Homo sapiens: one gene and its partners. The protein of the gene in region 1 purifies or fractionates together with the protein of each later gene. This does not show direct contact. Each region holds a gene or a part of one and is shown on either strand. Other genes may lie near its edges.

Region 1 (4,120 bases):
AGGAAGTGAAAAGTGATTGGGCCATCACTACCCTCTCCATCTCTCTGTAGTCACAGGATGAACTCCTCTATGCCTGTCTGCTCCCTGAAACCTCATACTGGCGTCCTCTAAAAGACACTTGACTCTGTAAAGCATCCAGTTCTGTTCCCCCACAGCCAGGGCCAGGCCTCAGCTATGGCCTTGGTGTCCATGGCTGTGACCCTGGCCCCAACTCCAAGTGACCCACTGCTTCATTGCCCAACACTATTCTGACTGTGGAATCTGCCTGTCTGTTCAGATTTTCTAACGTAAAAATTCATTTGGCTCAGGATTGGTCAAATATCCACTCCTGCTCCAATTATCTAAAGCCTACATGAAGGGAGAGAGTGTAGGTGTTACATACTGCCCAGGTCCGACAGATACTTAAGATAGGGAGCTAGAGACACACACACAAATAAAAACTGCAGTAGTTCTGGAGTGTTGACTACTAATACTCTGAAATACAAATGGAGTCATTAAAACATGTCTCTCCCTGCCTGTCATCTACATCCTCCCACCCACAACCCCGCCTCCCCGCCCCCCTACTGTCCAATCTTCCCACTCATCCCCTTTCCCCCACTCCACCCAATCCCCCTCCCACCTCTCCCCTCTCCCCCTGAAGATTGATTTCCCATTGAGATATATTTCTGTTCTATTTTACATTTCTGAATTTACTGAGGCTTTTGCAGCCAGATTCGCCTCCCACAGAGGAAGCAATTTTCCCTCCATGAAAAATTCACAGCTTTACACCACGGGCAGTCCCAGTTCCCTGGCCTGCGATATACTGGAGGTCTTCTCTGCTGATGGAGTTCGGAGTCTCTCCTGTCTCTTGGGGGCTCTTGAGGGTCTATTCCCTGGGCCTCCACATCTGACCACAGGCTAGCATCAGAGGCCCCCCAGTTGAAAGGCATCTGAGTTGGAACCCGTTCTGTGACCTTTGCTGGTGAAGGGGGTATATTGGGTATGGCTGAGAAGGCGGACAAAGGGCATGGGTATGAGTATGTGAATGAGGTAGGGAGCTGGACAGGAAGAGGCTCCAGTGAGACTGTGGACCCAAGCCCAGAGAAGACAGACATGGCTGTTTGTACTGACCTGAGATCTTTCTCCCTCTGCCCCGCAAAGGTGTAATTTGCCTGCTACAATAGCTCCGAGGGGCTGCCTGAAGCCTCCTCCCAGCCCCTGCAAGACCTCTGCGGGGGCAGGCCCTGCCTCTGCATACCTCTCCTCTCCTTTTCCTCCAGCAGCACCAGCAGCAGCCACCGCCTCCTTTTCCTGCTCACCTGCTCCTTCTGTCCAATCCCCTCCGGCAGTGGCCAGGCCTGGAAACACTGTAGCCTGGCCCTGTCCCTGGGGAGGTGCCAGCTCCTGGAGAGAAGTAGGCAGAGCTGAAACACATTCTGGGGACAGGGCAGGGGGTCCGGACAGGTTGGGGCAGGGCAGAGGCATTGGACAGGGACCATTCGGGGGATCTTACGGCATGGAAGAGCTTCCATCTCAGCATGTCCCGCTCTCTCTGCACCTCCGCAAGGCTGGTCTCGGTTAGCTGCAACTGGAAGGTCGCCTCATTGCATTCCATCTCCTGCTGTTCCTTGAGTTCCGTCAGGTTTGAGGCCAAGACCAGCGCAGCTGATCTGTGCAGTTTGGCAAAGCCTTGCAGCCACTGCACCCTGCGGTTTTGTAACTGCCCCTGCCTGTGGGCAAAGCGCACACCCAAGGCCAGGCTGCCCCAGGTGCAGGCCTCTTTGACCTCGCTGGGCACCTCGCTGTCCTCCAGGATGGCCCTGAGCTTGTCTTCCACCTCCTCCCAGGATAAGGATATATTCTCGAAGTAGAACTCGGGGCCTTTCGTGTGCCTGGCCATTTTCTCGATGATGAAGGCCACCACGTTTCCGTGCCGGAACCCACTACTGGGGTCCTCAGGTCTCAAGGCCATGATCGCCTAGGGGCTTAACGGTTTCACTAGCCCTGTGTGGATGGAGCAGCCAATAGGTTTCTTTCCTCCTCCTTAGCCCCTCCCCTCATCTGTCTTCTCCGCCCTCCCACCTCTGACAAGACCCTCCTAATGACCCTCTGACCGGCTTGTCCTACCCTAGGACATCTCCCACCAGGCCTCACCTCTTCAGCCAGGGCCAGAGGAAGTACAGGCCAACCCCGCTGCTTAACACGCCTGAAGAGAGGGTGGCCTCTTTCCCTCCTAGGGCTCTGCGGGAAAAGAAGCCTCAGGGCCAACCCATGAGGATTTTACTCTGGGACTGTTCCAATTTCCAGAGACTGTAGGGGTGAAAGGGAGTGAGTGAGGAAGGCCTCTGCCATTCCACTGGGACAAAAGGGAACCTGCCACATGGTCGGGAGACCTTGAAGGCTGAAAGAAACAGGAGTGGTCCGGAAGGACTTAGGACCAAAAAAAGTATTTGTGAACAAGTTGAAGACTTATCCCTCCCCATCATAATGGTTTGTGCCATGCCAGGGGAGTTTCGCCCCCAACTGGAATATTCTAGAGCAGGAAACAGCCCCAACCCCTCAGTTGCCCTTGGAGGAAGAGGGTGGAGCCAGGAGCGGAGCTTATCCCCTGTTTGCTCAGGACTAAACATCCCAGACACCCTAACAAATCCTGGCCTGCCTTTCCTCCCTTAGCTCCTCTTTCCCCACACTCCTCCCATCACCCCTTCTCCCACTCCTCCCCTACTGAAACGCCTTGAATCTTGAAGCAACTGTGGGAGAAAGAGAGTTAGGAGTAGCATAAATACACCTTTTTACCAAAACATGAAATATCAGAGATCTTCCATCAGAGGGATATGAATATGTCTCTTAAAACCTTCGGCCGGGCGCGGTGGCTCATGCCTGTAATCCCAGTACTTTGGGAGACCGAGATGGGCGGATCACGAGGTCAGAAGATCGAGACCATCCTGGCTAACAGGGTGAAACCCCGTCTCTACTAAAATTACAAAAAATTAGCCAGATGTGGTGGCACGCGCATGTAGTCCCAGCTACTCGGGAGGCTGAGGCAGGAGAATCGCTTGAACCCACGAGGCGGAGGTTGCAGTGAGCCGAGATCGCACCACTGCACTGTAGCCTGGGTGACAGAGTGAGACTCTGTCTCAAACAAACAAACACAAAAACAAGAAAACCTTGAATGACTTTCTGAGACCCACAAGATAAATCAGACAAATCTCAGGTTGAGTCCAGCGTTGCTACGTATTACATGACATTGTACTGTAACTGAATCTGTTTCTACCTATGGATCTATGATGATGGCCAATGACAAAAGGGCATGTAAAGTTGTAGGAGTAATGTTTTCTATGATCCCGTATTTGTGTGTATGTGTGTGTTTGCATATGTTTGTATGTTTCTATAATCTTGGAGAACAGAATGAGAGAGGATATATAGCAGACTCAACATTAATTATCTCTGGGAAGTGGGGTTGGACTGGAGGTTAGAAAAAAAGTTTTTAACTTTAAAATACATTTTTCTCTAATTTCGCTTGTTACAAAGAGCATATAACTAACTATATGTATGCATACATCACAAATCTGGAAAGTTATATACTAACACTTTAACAGTGGTTATCTTTGGGTAATAGGAATACAGTACTTTAAAAAATATTCTTGACATTTTTCTCTATTGTAAAATTGTTTATAATAAACGTGTTATGTTTTTCAAAATTGAAAAAAAATGTTTCTCCCAGTAACAGCTGATCATTGTAAATAATTTTTAAGTGCTTGGAAAGTACTTCTATAATCCTACCCTTCCTTCAACCTGGGTGATAATCCCTCTTAATAGTTATATAGTCTTTTAGATAGGCCATAGCAAGTAATTTTTAGTTTTTCAAACGAAGCATCTTCTCTCTTCCTCTGTGGCCCTTGCACAGGCTCCTCTGTGCATGCACGGATTTCTCCTCATCCCCTCCTGCTCTCTCCACTCCCATTCTTTTCATTCACCTAACTCCTATACAGTTTCTATTCCCTTTTCATGACAGTGCTCAAACATTTCTTCCTCTTGTATTTCCTGATTCTCCAGACCCCACCTCAAGCTAGGCTGAATTGTGCAACCTTTTTGTGTCCCCATAACAACTTGTGCATATGTCTGACGGTACTTTTCACAC
Region 2 (4,282 bases), on another chromosome or scaffold:
TCTAGGAAAACTTGAGCAAAAAAATAATGACATTATTAGGTTATAACCTAAAGAAAAAATAAATATCTATACTAATATAAAAATTGAATAAATAAGTAAACAGAGGAGAAGGTAAGCTCTTCCTTAGAGCAGAATTCCAATGAGTAAATGTAGAGGGAAAGGGGAAATAATCATTGGGCACACTTCACAGTTATGGTTATAAGGACGAACTGTCAATTGATGCTAAAATTAGTGGGCAAAAGTATGATGAGAAGTAGGATATTTACATAATCTCAAATATCCTATTTCTCTTGTTGAGGAGATAATCTCCAAGTATCTCCCCAACAATATTACTTATTAGTATATTACAAAGGGAAAAACAGTAACTTTACAGTGAAAAAAATGGCAGACACTACCTTAACTATATAATCACAGATAACATTACAAGTAATAAGACGTACTGGCCTCAATTTCCCCCGATATGATGCGCCAAGAAGGGCACAACATTACTTTAGTGGTATTCTTGCTAAAAAATGTATGCATATGTGGATCTTATCATGAGAAAAGATCCAACTGAAATTGAGTGACATTTACAAAATCACTGGCTTGGATTTTTTGAAAGTGTCAAGCTCATGAAAGACAAAGAAACTGAGGAACTGTCACAGATTGAAGGATACTGAGAAAACACAACAATTAAATGCAATGAGGGATCTTGGATTGGATCCCTGGTAAAGAGACATAGGTTGGGGGCCGGGCGTGGTGGCTCACGCCTGTAATCCCAGCACTTTGGGAGGCTGAGGCGGGCGGATTACCTGAGGTCAGGCGCTGGAGAACAGCCTGGCCAACTTGGTGAAGCCCTGTCTCTACTAAAAATACAAAAATTAGCCAGGCATGGTGGCACATGCCTGTAATCCCAGTTACTCAGGACGCTGAGGCAGGAGAATTGCTTGAGCCCGGGAGAAGGAGGCTGCAGTGAGCCGAGATGGCACCACTGCACTCCAGTTTGGGCAACAGAGTGAGACTCTGTCTCAGAAAAAAAAAAAAAAAAAAAAAGAGACATAGGTGGGAAAACTGGAGAAATTAAAATAAAGTCTGTAGATTAGTTAACAGTATTACACCAATGGTAATTTTCTGATTTTCGTAATTCTGCTATAGTAATATAATATGTTAATATTAGGGCACAGTGAGTACAATTCTCTGCATAATTTCTGCACTTTTCTCTAAGTTTAAAATTATTTCAAATAAATAAATAAAAATATAGTGTGATGTTTCTCTAGCATCTTCTGAAGGTGACTAAGGTTTTAAAAAATATGTTTATGAACTTAAGATTTTAAACATATTTTATTTGTTATAATCCATTATAGGTAAAATTGTCCCATCTTTGACCAGTGGTAACATATTCAGGTTGGATCCTGAGTCCTTTTGACATAATCCTAATAGTATTTGATAGCTTCCTTACTTTGTAATATGTAAATATATTTATACATTTTATGCTCCAGACCTGGAATCACTTATTTCTCCCAGGACTCCTAATTCCTTTTAGTGGGCAATGGTCTTTAGAGAACATAATATGGGTGCTAGAGGTGCTAATTTTGCTGTTAGTCATTGTTTTGGAGCACTTTCTGTGGACAGAGGTAGAAAATATTTTTTGCTTGTTTTAAAGATACACTACACCATGAATTTATACTGATGCATCCAGTTCATACTTAGAACCAACTACTGACTTTTGACTTAACTTCATTGGCCTACATTTCTATTTTCTTTCAACCATGTTACAAAATCTTGCTCTTCAATAATACCAACATAATTACTCATTTGATGCACATAAAGCAGTCTCAGAATATTGATTCCAATATTTAAACCAATAATATAATTGCTGAACATTACACACACACACACATATATATGCAGATCTGCATTTATGTATGACCTTAAGGTATGTCCTACTAAGGATGTATTGTCAAATTAATTGTTTTATAGTCAGATGGAATAGTTTCTCTCTGTGTGGTTATGCTACCAATTGGATACATAACCAAATTCATTTGCCTCATTTTTCTTTTGTTTTTTTTAGGGACATATTGCTATTTAAATTTTGTTTTATGACTGTGTAAAATATTTATTGGTTCTAAAATCAAATTTATAAAGAAACATTATATTCAAAGAAATGTAGCTCTCTACTTACCTCTTCCACACTATTCCTTCACTCTGCATATAGGCAACCACTAAAAAATATGATTTGTCTTTCCATTTTGTTTAAATGTAAACATGTGTGTGTATATATGAATCCATGAAAAATGGTAACAAGTATATATGTTTTCTCCATCTTGCTTGTTTTCTCTGAATATCTTAGAGATTAATCTGGAGGAATATATAGACATTCTTCATTCCTTCCTACAGCTGCATAATTTTTACTTATCCAACCATTCCCTTATTGATGGACATTTAGGTTGACGCTGGTCTTTGGCTTTACAGATAGTGTAAATGTAGAGGATTTTTTTGTTGACTTGGCAGAGCCTTTGAGGAGGAGTCAGGGGGTGAGGTTGTTGGGGCACTAGGATTCCTCTCACATGGTCAGGGATTTACCCTGGATATCCGAGAATGGGATTCCCATTCTGCTGGAACTGTAGTAATAGGTGATTCCTGGTTCCTGGATAGTTGGTAGTGAGAGGTACTAAAATTGTGTTTGTCATGAGAGTTAGCATAAGCTGGGGGCTCTTGGTGGTGGAAGAGAAGAGAATATGGTGCTAGACAGTGGTCAACCCATGCAAAATGCACTTAAACTCTCAGATGCCTAGTTTTCCTTTGGGAAATTGTAATCCAGGATATTCTACCTATTTGTATTTCCCATGTCACTGCTGTAGTAGGGGTTATTACTGTTTTTAAGGCATTAATAACACTGTTTCTGACAAGTCCTGTCTGTTTTCTGTCTCCATCCTAACTTGTTTCTCCTTGTATTATCCCTAAATCAAATTGTCCTGTAGCTTATGCTGGCTCTGCAATAATGATGTAACTGTTTTGGCGTAAACTACAGTGTGCTCGTCTTCATCCCACCTCTCTGACTGTTCCTTTTCAGTCTTTTTTTCTCTGCCTGTCCTGTAAAGTTGGAGTACCCCAAGTGTACTTCTTCTCAGTAAACTCTTGGCCTTCTTCTCAGTAAACTCTTTTGGGTCCTTGATCTTTCAGAGAATTCAATGAAAGCTACGGACTTACTCTTTCCATAGAAAAATGTACATTTCTACCTATGTACAAAATTGTGTGTATCATTTCAAGGGGTTCATGGACACTTCTCCATGAAGACAAGGTCAAAGACATTTGCTCTCACACATTCTGGGCTTCCTCTCCTAGGACCTTCACTTGCCATCTAATTACAATGAATCCCAAGTCCATATCTCAGGCCCAGACTTCTCTCCTGCTCTCTTCAACAGCCTCCAGGTCATCCCTATCTGTAGAACATGTCTATAGCTGAGGTTGCCCTCTCCCTCCCATGAGTCTGCTCTTCCTCCCATGTCCCATTGGGTGGCTGTATCATCTGGCTTGCTGACCAAGCCACAACCCAGACGGCATCCTTGGCTTCTTCCCTATCACTCTCCCCATCTAATCAATGATGCTTAAATGGGAGCAAGACCCATTTCTTTCTCCATGCCGCAATTGTAATTCAGGCCACCATCATCACGCACCTGGATAGCTATAGCAGCTTCCTAACTGGTCCCCGGGCCTCTTGAATGAACCTCTCCCCCACTGGGTATCTACTCTTACATAGCAGCTAGTAAGATCTTTCTAAACTGCAATCTGATCGTATCACTCCCCTGTTGATAACTCTTCAAAAGCTTTCCTGTTGCCCCACTGACGGGTTTTAGCATGACAAAAAAAGCCCTCATTGCTTGCTCCCTGGGGATTCCAACAGCTATATCTAATTTTATCCAGGATTTCTGCACTGGTGGGGGCCAAGGTGAGATTTGATATAAAACTTTATTTTGAAAAAGGCTCATAAGCCATCCAAACAGTTTCAACAATCACCAAATAGAACAGAGCTGAAACTAGGGGGTGGGGCCAGATCACAAACAGTTTCCGAGCAGCTCCTGTATGCAAGGAAGTCTCTACAGTGGATGCAGTGATGAGGAAAACAAGATTTTGCCCCCAAGGGCTTTATAGTCCATAAAGGGGATAAAGGGTGGAAAAAAGAGGCATGTTCCAAATGAACTATTCAAGAAAACAAACATGTAGATGTCTTTTTTTTTTTTTTTTTGAGACAGAGTCTCACTCAGTTGCCCAGGCTGGAGTGCAGTGGTGCGATCTTGGCTCA
Region 3 (5,034 bases), on another chromosome or scaffold:
GTGCTTAACATGGAGTGGGGACAGAGGTTGACCCAAGCTACTCCAAGTTCAAGATGCCATTTGTTTATTTATTTATGCACAGGGTCTTGCTCTGTTGCCGAGGCTGGAGTGCAGGCAGTAGCAGGATCGTAGCTCACTGCCCTTGACCTCCTGGGCTCAAGCTATCCCGCTGCCTCAACCTCCTGAGCAGCTGGGACCACAGGCATGCACTACCACACCCGGCTAATTAAAATTTTTTTTTTTTTTTTTTTGTAGAAACAGGGTCTTCCTATGTTGCCCAGGCTGGTCTCAAACTCCTGGCCTCAAATGATCCTCCTGCCTCGACCTCCCAAAGTGCTAGGATTACAAGTGTGAGTCAACACACCTGGCCAAAATGCCATGTCTTTAAACCAGTGTCCTTCTCCCTATAATACCTCTCACTGGTCATGTATTTCCAGAAACATACTGGTGAGAGGGCAGGTGTTGAGAACATGGCACTTCTCACCCATCATAGGAAGGAGTCCAGGAGTTAAGAGCCACGGTTCCTCAGGGAGCTTCCTCACATGGAAGGTCAGACATATAGTTAGAGTCTCCAGATAACCATAGTCCTCAGAGGGAGTAAGAAGGAATCATCTCTATTAATATTTTGTCTCCCAAAGCATTCAAAGGGCCAACCCCCATGTTTTCCTGAATTTTATTTTTTTGGGGACAGATGGAGTCTCGTTCTGTCGCCCAGGCTGGAGTGCAGTGGCGCCATCTCAGCTCACTGCAACCTCTGCCTCCCAGGTTCAAGCAATTCTCATGCCTCAGCCTCTGGAGTAGCTGGGAACACAAGCACGCGCCACCATGCCCGGCTCATTTTTGCATTTTTAGTAGAGACGGCGGGCCGGGGGGGTTTCTCCATGTTGGCCAGGCTGGTCTCGAACTCCTGACCTCAGGTGATTCACCTGCCTCGGCTTCCCAAAGTGCTGGGATTGCAGGTGTGAGCAACCGCACCGGCCTTTCTGTATTCTAAATGAACATAAGTAGTTCTACACCTGACAAAAACTGCTTAGGGACCGCTGGAAACTCTGACAAACTCCTCAGTCTAGCACTCAAGGCTTTTCCCTCAACTGCATTTCTAGCCTCGTCTTCTCCTTACGTACCACCCAGGTGCTCTCCAGTTTCTGGGCCTTTGCTTAGGCTATTCCTGTCTCCATCTAGGTCTCCAACTGTTGAAATACCATCATATCTTTAGTTCCTGGCCAAAATACCACTTTATTCTCTGACAGAAAGTTTCTCACCCACTCTTACCCTCAACGTTCATGCCAGGAGGTATTAGATCCCCTCTAAAACTCCAGAGTAGCTAAACTGGACTTTATTACGCGCTGCCCCCGCCCCCTTCCCTCCCCCCACCCCAACCCCCCTCGCCACCATTGCCACTGGCCTGCGCTTAGCTGGCTGCTATAGCAGATATCTGTTGGACGGTGTGAATGGCTTGTATTCCAGGCCCATCTGCCTGCGTTGGGGGTGCGGCGGGGGGTGTTGGAGACGGGACTGGGGCTTGAGCTCCTTGCACCCGACTCTCCCCGCCGCCTTGTAGCCCCAGTTCAGCTTTAGGTAGAGTACCGCAGGCACCAAGTGCAGCTTTCCTGTCGCCATAGCGACGGGCGGGGCGAGATGGCAAAGTCTCCCTTTGGAACTACATCTCCCATCATGCATCCGCGCCTCGGGGTGCCTGGCTCAGCCTCAGGCATGAGACCTGTACCAGCCCCCGGGAGCCGTGCGGGGCCAACAATGAGGAGCAGAATGCAAGGGGCGGCCTCGCTCCCCTGGCCACCGCGGGGGTCGCGGCCTCCCATTACATAGCGCGTGTCTCGAGCCCTGGCCTGCTCTCGGCACCGCCACAACGGGCGTAATATGGCCGCTGGTGCCGGGACCTGCCGGGCGCGCGGAGGGTCGGGCCGAGGTCCGGGATCCGGAACTGCTCCCGGCATTCCTCGCGAGTGTATGGCGTGGGCTCCCTTCCCCCTCTGTGGGTCCCGCGAGGAGACTCTCGGGCTTTGAGGTGAGACCTGAAGTTCCGCTGGCCGGTAGTGTAGCAGGAAAGGGCAGGTCCTCCCGGGTCGTGAGCCAGTAGCCTCCTGGGGTGGCAAGGTGTAGAGAGGGGGGCGTTGAAAGGACACCCGCTACCCGGCCTGCTTTCTAGGGGTCTCTTTGGATTGAGGACATCAGCAGCAGTGGAAGGGATTTTACTGGAGACCTGTCACTGTCAGAGCCTTAAAATATCACCGACGGGGCCTTAATGTCACCGAGGTAGAGAGAAAAGGGCAGTAGCCCTAGAGACTATTGCGACACAGTGTGCCCCTCATAAGTTTTTCCAGGGAGGGGTTCTGTACTGAGTTGACGCCCCAGGAGCTGAGCACCAGGCTTTGCATCCTTGGGAACTCAGCAAACGTTTGTTCAGCCAATTGCAGGTAGCATGGCCCAGGGCTTGATTGAGGTGGAGCGAAAGTTCCTTCCAGGGCCTGGCACAGAGGAGCGGCTGCAGGAGTTGGGGGGCACCCTGGAGTACCGGGTCACCTTCCGAGACACCTACTATGACACCCCTGAGCTGAGCCTCATGCAGGCTGACCACTGGCTGCGACGACGAGAGGATAGTGGATGGGAGCTCAAATGTCCTGGAGCAGCAGGTGTCTTAGGACCCCACACGGAGTATAAGGAACTCACAGCGGAACCTACAATTGTGGCCCAACTCTGTAAGGTGCTGCGGGCTGACGGCCTGGGGGCTGGAGATGTGGCTGCTGTGCTGGGCCCACTGGGGCTGCAGGAAGTAGCTAGTTTTGTGACTAAGCGGAGTGCCTGGAAGCTGGTGCTCTTGGGAGCTGATGAAGAGGAGCCACAGCTCAGGGTGGACTTGGATACAGCCGACTTTGGCTACGCTGTGGGTGAGGTAGAGGCCCTGGTGCATGAGGAGGCTGAAGTACCAACTGCCCTAGAGAAGATCCACAGGCTCAGCAGCATGCTTGGTGAGGGAGACAGGCCCTTTTGTGCTTTTCCTGCTCCCCACTTTTCTCTTTTGGAGGCACCTGCTGGACCATGCAGTGGGGGAGGGCCTCCGGATTAAAAATTTTTTTTTTAATAGAGACAAGGTTTTGCCGTGTTGCCCAGGCTGGTCTGGAACTCCTGGACTCAAGCAATTTGCCTGCCTCGGCCTTCCAAAGTGCTGGGATTACAGGTGTGAGCCTCTGTGCCTGGCCTGGATTATTTTTGTAATGGGAATTGTTTTAGCAATTTTCTAAGTTTGCTTACAGTTCTGTGAAATCTCGTTTTCTCTTTAACAGTAGCTAATTTGGATCTAGTCCTTCCACGTGTCTAATTCCAGCCAACCTGCCTCATTTAGTTCTCATACCTATAGCCAGATCTCCTTCAGTTTCATTTCTCAGTTCCCTGCTTTGACTCTTCCTTCCCCCAATCTCTTTTTTTTCTTCTTCTTCAGTCACCACTCCTCCACAAGGAGTAAAAAGTAAGCCTTTTTACAAAAGCTGCCCTCTGGGAGGCTCAGACCCAGGATCTTCAGATCATGAGACTGATGCACTGCCCACTACACTGAGAGTCCAACCAGTCTTGTCCTTTTGTTTTACAATTACCTAGATCCTTTTAATTTGTCCTTTTGGCTTTTTGTAAAGGACAATAACATTATAGTTATGTGAGACAGTGGGGCATGATTTGGCAGATTTGTTCCTAAGCATAATTCCCTTGTAGACAGTTCATCCACACTAGGAATTGTGCATCCCATGGGGCCTTACAGCCCTGCAGTGCTGTTTGAGCCCCCTCAGCAAACATACACTGAGTTCCTTGCTATGTGCCCAGCATGCTGCCAGGCACTAACAACAAGACACTGGCAACAGGCAGTTCCATTCTCACCTCACCATGTAGAGGCGAGAATTCTATGTGAATCCCACCCCATGGCTATAGCTTCCCTCCTCTTCTTTCTATAGCTCTTGGTTTCTATGTGTACATCTCTGCATGTGCTTCATTACTAAGCTAATGAGCTTTGGCCTGGTCTAGGGCTTTAATCTTGATTGCGGAACAGGGTAATAACTGAAATGAGCTGACGCTGAGGCATCCTTCGTTTATCTTGGTGCCTGGGTGCCTCTTCGCCATTTCTCCTTGCTGGAGGAGAGAGGCTGAGGTGTGGCTTCTAGTCCCACTCTTGCCTGAAGTTGCTCTTTTAGGTCCCACTTCCACAGGCAGGCAGGGAGTGGACTAGTGTGTTACAGAAGCTGGGTGGGTGACATTCAGAACCCCAGTGTGGCTTTGGAAACATCCACGGAGTCCTGGCTAGGTGGGCAGGGAGCAGAGTCCAAGTGCTTGTGGCTCTGTCCATTTCTCTCCTCATTGTCCTTTTACCTGTAGGTGTGCCTGCACAGGAGACAGCACCAGCCAAGCTGATTGTGTATCTACAGCGTTTCCGGCCTCAAGACTATCAGCGCCTGCTAGAAGTGAACAGCTCCAGAGAGAGGCCACAGGAGACTGAAGATCCTGACCACTGCCTGGGCTAGGGGTGTCACTTCCTAGAAGGGGAAGGGAACTCTGGGTCTAACGGAGTCCACTCCTGGGCCCACTGTGCCTCTCCCCTCAGTGTCCCTTCTGACAGTGACTCCTCTCTCTCCAGCGCTGCCTGTTTCTTCCCCCTCCTCTAAGCTACTCTTCCTTGAGCCCTCCCTGGCTGCTTCCTCTCGCTCATCCGTCAGATGCAATCTGTGGGCCGCCCCTCTCCCCTGGCCGCTAAGCAGCCTCCATTGATTTCCGCTCGTGTTTATAGGATTTCCACTTAGCCGTGATCAGTAGTTAAGCACAGGAAAATCCCTTGCCACCCCCCCTCCCTTGGTCGATGCCATTGATTCTGCCAGCGGCTCCTAAACCGCCTTACAGCTGAGTTAGAAGATGAGGAGAGGCAGCAGGGATTTCCCTGCCTTGGGATGTGGGAAACAGAAGAAAAGTTGAGGAAATGGTTGGGAATCGCTGTTAGAACTCTAGAAATTCTAATCTGACTTTGCCACTGTGCCCAGC
Region 4 (4,282 bases), on another chromosome or scaffold:
CAGCAGTAAGGGAGGAAGTCCCACCCAGGGGTGTCCCTGGCTTTGGGAAAGAAGCTCCTTCTGTCTGTTTTTTCTCTCTGTCAGCCCCTGGCTCCCGGTGGTCACTTGTACTCACCTGTTTCTTTCCCTCCACAAATAGCAGACCTCTGCTTCCCAACAAATGCTCAACTTTCCTGACAAAGGCAAAGAGAAACCAACAGACATGCAAAACTTTGGGCTGCGCACAGACATGTACACAAAAAAGAATGTTCCCTCCAAGGTAGGAGGTGCGGGCCGACTCTAGGGGTAGAGAATGTTCGCTCCTCAGAGGTCACAGGCTCCTTTCTTCTCACCTGCCTGTGTTTCCCCTGCAGAGCAAGGCTGCAGCCAGTGCCACTCGTGAGTGGACAGAACAGGAAACCCTGCTTCTCCTGGAGGTAATTGGGGCAAAGAAAAGAGAGTTTTTCTCTGAAAACAGAAGTGGGCTCCGTGTAGAGGCTCACGCCTGTAATCCCAGCACTTTGGGAGGCCAAGGCAGGAGGATCACTTGAGTCCAGGAGTTCGAGATGAACCTGGGCAACATAGTGAGACTCCGTCTCTACGAAAAATTTTAAAAATTAGCCAGGTGTGGTGGCACACACCTGTGGTCCCAGCTACTCAGGAGGCTAAGTGGGAGGATTGCTTGAGCCTAGGAGGTCAAGGCTCCAGTGAGCTTCAGGACCAGCTCCAGGCTGGGGATTTGGGCCATTTCATTAACTTCATATCCTTTCTTAGTGCTACTTCAAGATCCCCCTTGGACCTAGCAGAGTACACAAATACCAGAACATAGAGAACTTTGAAACCAGCTGCCCTTAGTAGGATGGGGGGAGTCAGCCTTCGAGAAAAGTGGCTAAGTAAGCGGAGTTATGTCTCCACCACTACCACCAGGCACTGGAAATGTACAAAGATGACTGGAACAAAGTGTCCGAGCATGTGGGAAGCCGCACACAGGACGAGTGCATCTTGCATTTTCTTCGTCTTCCCATTGAAGACCCATACCTGGAGGACTCAGAGGCCTCCCTAGGCCCCCTGGCCTACCAACCCATCCCCTTCAGTCAGTCGGGCAACCCTGTTATGAGCACTGTTGCCTTCCTGGCCTCTGTCGTCGATCCCCGAGTCGCCTCTGCTGCTGCAAAGTCAGCCCTAGGTAATGGGGGTGGGTGGTTCCACCTGGCCTTCTTAGTTTGCTTTTGAAGGGCTAGTTACTCAGACTGTGAATCCTCTCAAGTTTGGCTGCCCTGCTGGCCTTGTCTGTGCGGGCCTCAGCTCAGGCACCTGTCTAGGCTCCATACTAGCTTAGATGAAGACATGGGCTTGTGAGTAAGCTTTTGCAGGGATTGCCAGAACTGTTCCACTGTGCCGCTCCCAGCCTCATTCTTTCTGGGTCTTGCAGAGGAGTTCTCCAAAATGAAGGAAGAGGTACCCACGGCCTTGGTGGAGGCCCATGTTCGAAAAGTGGAAGAAGCAGCCAAAGTAACAGGCAAGGCGGACCCTGCCTTCGGTCTGGAAAGCAGTGGCATTGCAGGAACCACCTCTGATGAGCCTGAGCGGATTGGTAAGGCCAGGCAGGTTCCCAGATTTCTTGCCTTTCACAAGATCCAGAGCTACCTGGCCTCCTGTGCCATTTCTGCCTCAAGTTGGCATTAGAGCACAACATGAATGAGAACATTGGTAGGGTTTTTATTTTCCCCATGAGTTTACCTCAGGGGCTCTGGAGCCCTACTAGTCCTCTCATGAAGATTTTGGGTAGAAAAATCTTTGCTTGTAGAAGGGGCTGTTAGAAAAGTCTTGTGAAGGCCGGGCGCAGTGGCTCATGCCTGTAATCTCAGCACTTTGGGAGGCCGAGGTGGGTGGATCACGAGGTCGGGAGTTCAAGACCAGCCTGGCCAAGATGCTGAAACCCTGTCTCTACTAAATATACAAAAATTAGCTGGGCGTGGTGGCACGTGCCTGTAATCCCAGCTACTTCAGAGGCTGAGGCAGGAGAATCACTTAAACCTGGGTGCCAGAGGTTGCAGTGAGCCAAGATCAAGCCACTGCACTCCAGCCTGGGCAACAGAGCAAGACTTCGTCTCTCAAAAAAAAAAAAAAAAAAAAAAAAGTCTTGTGAAGGCTGGGTGCAGTGGCTCATGCCTGTAATCCCAGTACTTTGGGAGGCTGAGGTGGGCAGATGGTTTGAGACCAGTCTGGGCAACATGGCAAAATCCCGTCTCTACAAAAAATACCAAAAAAGTTAGCCAGGCATGGTGGCATGCGCCTGTAGCCCCAGATACACAGGAGGCTGAGGTGAGAGAACCACTTGAGCCTGGGAAGTCAAGGCTGCAGTGAGCCATGATTGTGCTACTGCACTCCAGCCTGGGCGACAAGAGTGAGACCCTGTCACAAAAAAACAAAAAACAAAAAAAAACAGGTGTTATGGAGAAGCTGGGTGCAACGGCTCACACCCATAGTCCAAGCTGCTCAGGAGGCTGAGGTGGGAGGATTGCGTGGGCCCAGGAGTTTGAGACCAACCTGGGCAACACAGCAAGACCCTGTCTCTAAAAAAAAAGAAAAGTGTTAGACACAGACGACTGTGTATTAAACATTTCCTGTTTTCTTTCTTTTCTCATGGGCCCAGAGGAGAGCGGGAATGACGAGGCTCGGGTGGAAGGCCAGGCCACAGATGAGAAGAAGGAGCCCAAGGTATAGAGGGATTTCTGGAAGCTGCAGGGGCTGCGTGCAGCACTGTGGTGATGGGGAAGTTGGCCTTGTTCAGCTTAGGTGGGCAAGGGCTGGTTTTGGACGGGGTTGTCTCCTAGAATCAGATCACCTCCAAAGTAAGAGGAATAAATTTAGTTCCCCGTCTGGCCCCTCTGTGTGAGAACTAATCACCCTAATCCCTGATAACTCTCCTTTTCTATCACTGGAATTTCAGGAACCCCGAGAAGGAGGGGGTGCTATAGAGGAGGAAGCAAAAGAGAAAACCAGCGAGGCTCCCAAGAAGGATGAGGAGAAAGGGAAAGAAGGCGACAGTGAGAAGGAGTCCGAGAAGAGTGATGGAGACCCAATAGGTGAGCCTCCCACAAGGGTAGGTGGGGGTGCAGGACAGAGGTGAAGCTGTGGGGCTAACTCAACCCTTGTCCTGGCCCAGTCGATCCTGAGAAGGAGAAGGAGCCAAAGGAAGGGCAGGAGGAAGTGCTGAAGGAAGTGGTGGAGTCTGAGGGGGAAAGGAAGACAAAGGTGGAGCGGGACATTGGCGAGGGCAACCTCTCCACCGCTGCTGCCGCCGCCCTGGCCGCCGCCGCAGTGAAAGCTAAGGTGAGGCCAGACCTTGAAGACCTCAGGGAAGAAAATGTCCACTTCTCTAATCTCATCTCACTTAGAGGAAATCTTTCCTCACTCACACCTTAAATAATGCTGACCTATTTATTTTTTATTTTTATCTCAGGAGGAGGTAAAGTTAGTCATCCCTTCTCTAAGCTTTAAAAAATATATCACCATTGGGCCTGTTTTCAACCCTGTCAGTATTTGACTCCATGTTACCCTTTGCCACACTATCTCCATGTTCTTCTTTTGAGACGGAGTCTTGCTCTGTCAGATCTCGGCTCACTGCAGCCTCCACCTCCCAAGTTCAAGTGATTCTCCTGCCTCAGCCTCCCGAGTAGCTGGGACTACAGGCGTGCTACACCACGCCTGGCTAACTCTTTGTATTTTTAGTAGAGATGGGGTTTCACCATGTTGGCCAGGCTGGTCTTGAACTCCTAACCTCAGGTGATCCACCCGCTTTGGCCTCCCAAACTGCTGGAATTACAGGCGTGAGCCACCGTGCCCAGCCTCCATGCTTGTTTATTTATTTATGTATTTTTTGAGATGGAGTCTCACTCTGTTGCCCAGGCTGGAGTGCAGTGGCACAATCTCGGCTCACTGCAACCTCCACCTCCCAGGTTCAAGCGATTCTCCCACCTCAGCCTCCCAAGTAGCTAGGATTACAGGCACGTGCCAGCATGCCCGGTTAATTTTTGTATTTTTAGCAGAGATGGGGTTTCACCCTGTTGCCCCAGGCTGGTCTCAAACTCCTGGACTCAAGTGATCTGCTCGCCTTAGCCTCCCAAAGCGCTGGGATTACAGGCATGAGCCATCACACCTGGCCAAAATAATTTAATTTTTTAAAAAGGCTGGGCGCAGTGGCTCACGCGTGTAATCCCAGGACTTTGGGAGGCTGAGGCAGGTGGATCACCTGAGGTTGTAAGTTTGAGACCAGCCTGGCCAACATGGTGAAACCCCA
Region 5 (4,282 bases), on another chromosome or scaffold:
CCCTCTGGAGCAGACCTTGGGGCAAGGATGTGGGAGCATGTAGTTTATTTGGGAGGTGATTCTAGGAAAGAGGGAATAAGGAGGAACTTAGGAGGGACTATCATCTGCTTCTTAGCCTCATAAGGGTTAAGAGAAATAGCATCTTAACTAGCACAGGGGTGGGCTTGTGAGACACGTGGAGTGAACATTCTTTCACCTCTTTGGGGGTTAAACTTAAGTCTGATTAGACATATGATGAAATCATGTGTTCCTGATGGTAATTTATTTGTAAAGTAATTCCTCATGATGGCCTAGAAAAGGGGCTTCGTGTCCCATGAGGCAGAAGTGGAGGCAAATAGAACGGAAGAGACAGCCACCCAGTCCCTTGAGCCTTCTAGAGAAGCAGATGGCAGGGGAGAGGAATAGCTCAGCACCCTATGCCCCCCGCTCCAACATACACGCCTGATTTCTATCTTCCCTGCAGCCTTGGGGAGCAGTACTACAAAGATGCCATGGAGCAGTGCCACAATTACAATGCTCGCCTCTGTGCTGAGCGCAGCGTGCGCCTGCCTTTCTTGGACTCACAGACCGGAGTAGCCCAGAGCAATTGTTACATCTGGATGGAAAAGCGACACCGGGGTCCAGGTGAGGGTCCAGACTTGGGAGAAGGGGACTCAGGAGCATAAGGAGGAAGAAGCCTCCTCATCTTAGGTGATGAGACAGTTGATAGGGTTTTCCCTACTGCCTTCCACCTATGGATGAATATGGTCTTCCTGTGATTAGAAACCCAGGGAGGATGAAGCAGATGTTTGATACCAGCATCTTTGTTTTCTGCCCTGCTGAGGCCATTGTGTGTCTGGAGAACTATGTGTTAGCCAAGGCCCTGAAGCTTATATATCTATTTTTCTTTTCCACAGACTATTCCACCTAACCCCCTAGGCCCTCACTGTCAGAATTTCTCCCTTGCTCTAGAACTCAAAGGGGGGCCTACTTAATTAGAAAGTGTTTGGTATTACTTTCTAATACTGGGTTAGGGCCTGACTTCTATCTTTCTTCCTGCCACAGGATTGGCCTCCGGACAGCTGTACTCCTACCCTGCCCGGCGCTGGCGGAAAAAGCGGCGAGCCCATCCCCCTGAGGATCCACGACTTTCCTTCCCATCTATTAAGCCAGGTAAGGCACATACTTCCTGAGCAGAGGCGTGGCCTGCTGCATGGTGAGAGCCTGCTAATCACTGTGATATACCAGGCCCAGTACTAGATCCCAAATATACTCAAATGAATATGATGTGATTCTTTCCTTTAAGGACCTCAGTCTAGAAGGGGAGACAGGTAAACAGATAAGTTATGGTGCCAAGTGAACTAGGGTGTCTTAATTCCTGGGCGTGCAGAGAACAAAAGATAGTGACAGACCTTTGGTAAGCCCCAGCATTATGTGGACTCAGAGCAGTCTGCTTTCAGCCCTTTTGAGCCTTGCTTTATCCTGACCTTGCTTGCAGACACAGACCAGACCCTGAAGAAGGAGGGGCTGATCTCTCAGGATGGCAGTAGTTTAGAGGCTCTGTTGCGCACTGACCCCCTGGAGAAGCGAGGTGCCCCGGATCCCCGAGTTGATGATGACAGCCTGGGCGAGTTTCCTGTGACCAACAGTCGAGCGCGAAAGGTACAGGATTATCCCTGTGGCTAAGGGAGCTTTGATGGAAATCAGCCTCCTCTTCACTGGGGGCCACCTAGTTTCTAGAACTGAAACAGAAGCTGGAGTCCAGGAAGCAGGCCCCTGCAGTTCTGTTCTTACTTCAGTCCCTGATTATTGTCAGGTACTGACTGGCTTCTCTGTTGCTTCTAACTATAGACTCTCATTCATTCACTTTTATCACAGAAGGTTATTATTATACACATATATAATTTTCATTAAAAAAATTAAAATAGGCCAGATGCAGTGGCTCATGCCTGTAATCCCAGCACTTTGGGAGGCCAAGGCAGGAGGATTGCTCAAGTCCAGGAGTTCGAGACCAGCCTGGGCAACAAAGTGAGACCCCATCTCTACAAAAAAATAATAATTAAAAAAAAATAGCCAGGCATAGCAGCATGCGCCTGTTGTCCCAGCTACTAGGGAAGCTGAGGTGGGAGAATCACTTGAGCCTATGAGTTCGAGACTGCAATGAGTCATGATCATGCCACTGCACTCCAGCCTGGGCAACAAAAAAAAAAAATTAAAACCAGAAGGTGCAAGAATAGTACAATGAAATACCACATACTCTTTACCTAGATTTATCAATTCCACATTTTGCCACATTTGCCTTATCTGTCTTTGCTAAACTATTTGAGAGGAAACTTCAAAAACTTTTCAGTCTAGGCAACATAGCAGGACCTTGTCTCTACTAAAAATAAAAATAAAAAATTAGCTGGGCATGGTGGCACACGCCTGCAGTCCCAGCTACTCAGGAGGCTGAGGTGGGAGGATTGCTTGAGCCCAGGAGATTGAAGCTGTAGCTCTGCTTATGCCTCTGCACTCCAGCCTGGGTAACAGAGGGAGACCCTGTCTGGGAAGGGAGGGAAACAAACTTTTATCCCTAAGTGCTTTACTCTTTTATCACAAAAGTTTGTGTCACAGTTTTTTGGTCCCTGAGGTTACACAGTGAAGCACACTTAGTCTCTGCCAACAGAGAAGATAAGAATACATGTAAAAATAACAGCTATAAATATGCCAGCATTGGGTTAAGTGCCTTTTCATGCCCTTTCTCCTTTAGTCTGTACAACCTTATGGGGTAGGTCCTGTGTTCCCCATTTCACACAGAGGCTGAAACAAAGCAGTTTAAAAACTTCCCATGGGTCGGGCACGGTAGCTCACGCCTGTAATCCCAGCACTTTGGGAGGCCGAGGCAGGCGGATCTTGAGGTCAGGAGATCGAGACCATCCTGGCTAACATGGTGAAACCCCGTCTCTACTAAAAATACAAAAAAAATTAGCCAGGCGTGGTGGTGGGCACCTGCAGTCCCAGCTACTCAGGCGCAAACCCGGGAGGCAGAGCTTGCAGTGAGCCGAGATTGCGCCACTGCACTCCAGCCTAGGTGACAGAACGAGACTCCATCTCAAAAAAAAAAAAAAAACTTCCCATGGCCGGCCACGGTGGCTGACGCCTGTAATCCCAGCACTTTGGGAGGCCGAGGCAGTTGGATCACCTGAGGTCGGGAGTTCGAGACCAGCCTGACCAAGATGAAGAAACCCCGTCTCTACTAAAAATCCAAAATTAATCAGGTGTGGTGGCGCATGCCTGTAATTCCACCTACTTGGGAGGCTGAGGCAGGAGGATCGCTTGAACCCAGGAGACGGAGGTTGCGGTAAGCCAGTATTGCGCCATTGCACTCCAGCCTGGGCAACAAGAGCGAAACTCTGTCTCAAAAAAAAAAAAAAAAAAAAAAAGCTTCCCACAAGGTCACACAAATAAGCAACAACATTTTAATTTAAACTAGGAGGCGAGTGTCAGGACAGAACCACCAATAATGTGCTCCCAGGGTGGCCAATCAGAGGCAGGAGAGGGCATGGCTGCTTGTGGCATCAGGGCAACCTTTTGGAAGCATGCTATTTGATTTGGCCATGTGGCATGGTGGGGAAAGCATTTCAGGCTAAGGAAATAACGTGAAGCACAGGGGAAAGATATCCCAAAGTATGGAAGGGAGCAGGAGCAGGATTATAGCATGCTTGAAAGGCGTTGGTGAGGAATGAGGCTGGTGTGGGTGGGACCACGTCACAGAGGAGGTTCTGGGTGGCCTTGGCCAGTCTCATCATAGGGGAGCTTTTGGATGCACATATTTCTACCCATGCTAACCCTCCTGTCCACTCAGCGGATCCTAGAACCAGATGACTTCCTGGATGACCTCGATGATGAAGACTATGAAGAAGATACTCCCAAGCGTCGGGGAAAGGGGAAATCCAAGGTGAGGGGCCAGCGTGCTGCCTGCATCTTGGGACAGGGTGGCCTAGGGAATTCCTTATTTTATTTCAAGTGAGATTAGCGGCCACTTCCAAAAGAGTCTAACTCCTCAGGCCCAGCTACCAAAATAAGGGTGTCTCTTTGCTCTTCTTGGCAGGGTAAGGGTGTGGGCAGTGCCCGTAAGAAGCTGGATGCTTCCATCCTGGAGGACCGGGATAAGCCCTATGCCTGTGACAGTGAGTGCCTCACAAGTGGGTGGGTAGACCTTGCCTTGGACCCAGCTCCTGCTCTGGATATGAGAGGAGGGAGGGTTGTGTTTTTGCCCAGAGTATTAAAACAAACCTGGGCTCTTGTCCTGCCTGCTGACTGC

Evidence for each region.
Region 2: the proteins of TEX13B (region 1) and DPF3 purify together in Homo sapiens (affinity purification with mass spectrometry; one large-scale study listed by BioGRID and IntAct). This does not show direct contact.
Region 3: the proteins of TEX13B (region 1) and THTPA purify together in Homo sapiens (affinity purification with mass spectrometry; one large-scale study listed by BioGRID and IntAct). This does not show direct contact.
Region 4: the proteins of TEX13B (region 1) and SMARCC2 purify together in Homo sapiens (affinity purification with mass spectrometry; one large-scale study listed by BioGRID and IntAct). This does not show direct contact.
Region 5: the proteins of TEX13B (region 1) and DPF2 purify together in Homo sapiens (affinity purification with mass spectrometry; one large-scale study listed by BioGRID and IntAct). This does not show direct contact.

The regions. Positions count from the first base shown.
Region 1 is NC_000023.11:107,980,177-107,984,296, forward strand, and holds TEX13B (testis-expressed protein 13B), read right to left. Parts: upstream 2,195-4,120; 5' UTR 2,134-2,194; intron 1,984-2,133; 5' UTR 1,952-1,983; coding exon 1,493-1,951; intron 1,384-1,492; coding exon 904-1,383; 3' UTR 688-903; downstream 1-687.
Region 2 is NC_000014.9:72,621,084-72,625,365, reverse strand, and holds part of DPF3 (zinc finger protein DPF3), read left to right. Parts: intron 1-4,282. UniProt on the Homo sapiens protein: Belongs to the neuron-specific chromatin remodeling complex (nBAF complex).
Region 3 is NC_000014.9:23,554,318-23,559,351, forward strand, and holds the start of THTPA (thiamine-triphosphatase), read left to right. Parts: upstream 1-1,953; 5' UTR 1,954-2,440; coding exon 2,441-2,987; intron 2,988-4,377; coding exon 4,378-4,523; 3' UTR 4,524-5,034. UniProt on the Homo sapiens protein: Hydrolase highly specific for thiamine triphosphate (ThTP).
Region 4 is NC_000012.12:56,168,562-56,172,843, reverse strand, and holds part of SMARCC2 (SWI/SNF complex subunit SMARCC2), read left to right. Parts: intron 1-139; coding exon 140-259; intron 260-353; coding exon 354-416; intron 417-906; coding exon 907-1,165; intron 1,166-1,411; coding exon 1,412-1,573; intron 1,574-2,635; coding exon 2,636-2,700; intron 2,701-2,932; coding exon 2,933-3,068; intron 3,069-3,148; coding exon 3,149-3,315; intron 3,316-4,282. UniProt on the Homo sapiens protein: Involved in transcriptional activation and repression of select genes by chromatin remodeling (alteration of DNA-nucleosome topology).
Region 5 is NC_000011.10:65,339,922-65,344,203, forward strand, and holds part of DPF2 (zinc finger protein ubi-d4), read left to right. Parts: intron 1-463; coding exon 464-624; intron 625-1,044; coding exon 1,045-1,152; intron 1,153-1,477; coding exon 1,478-1,641; intron 1,642-3,823; coding exon 3,824-3,916; intron 3,917-4,069; coding exon 4,070-4,148; intron 4,149-4,282. UniProt on the Homo sapiens protein: Plays an active role in transcriptional regulation by binding modified histones H3 and H4. Is a negative regulator of myeloid differentiation of hematopoietic progenitor cells. Might also have a role in the development and maturation of lymphoid cells.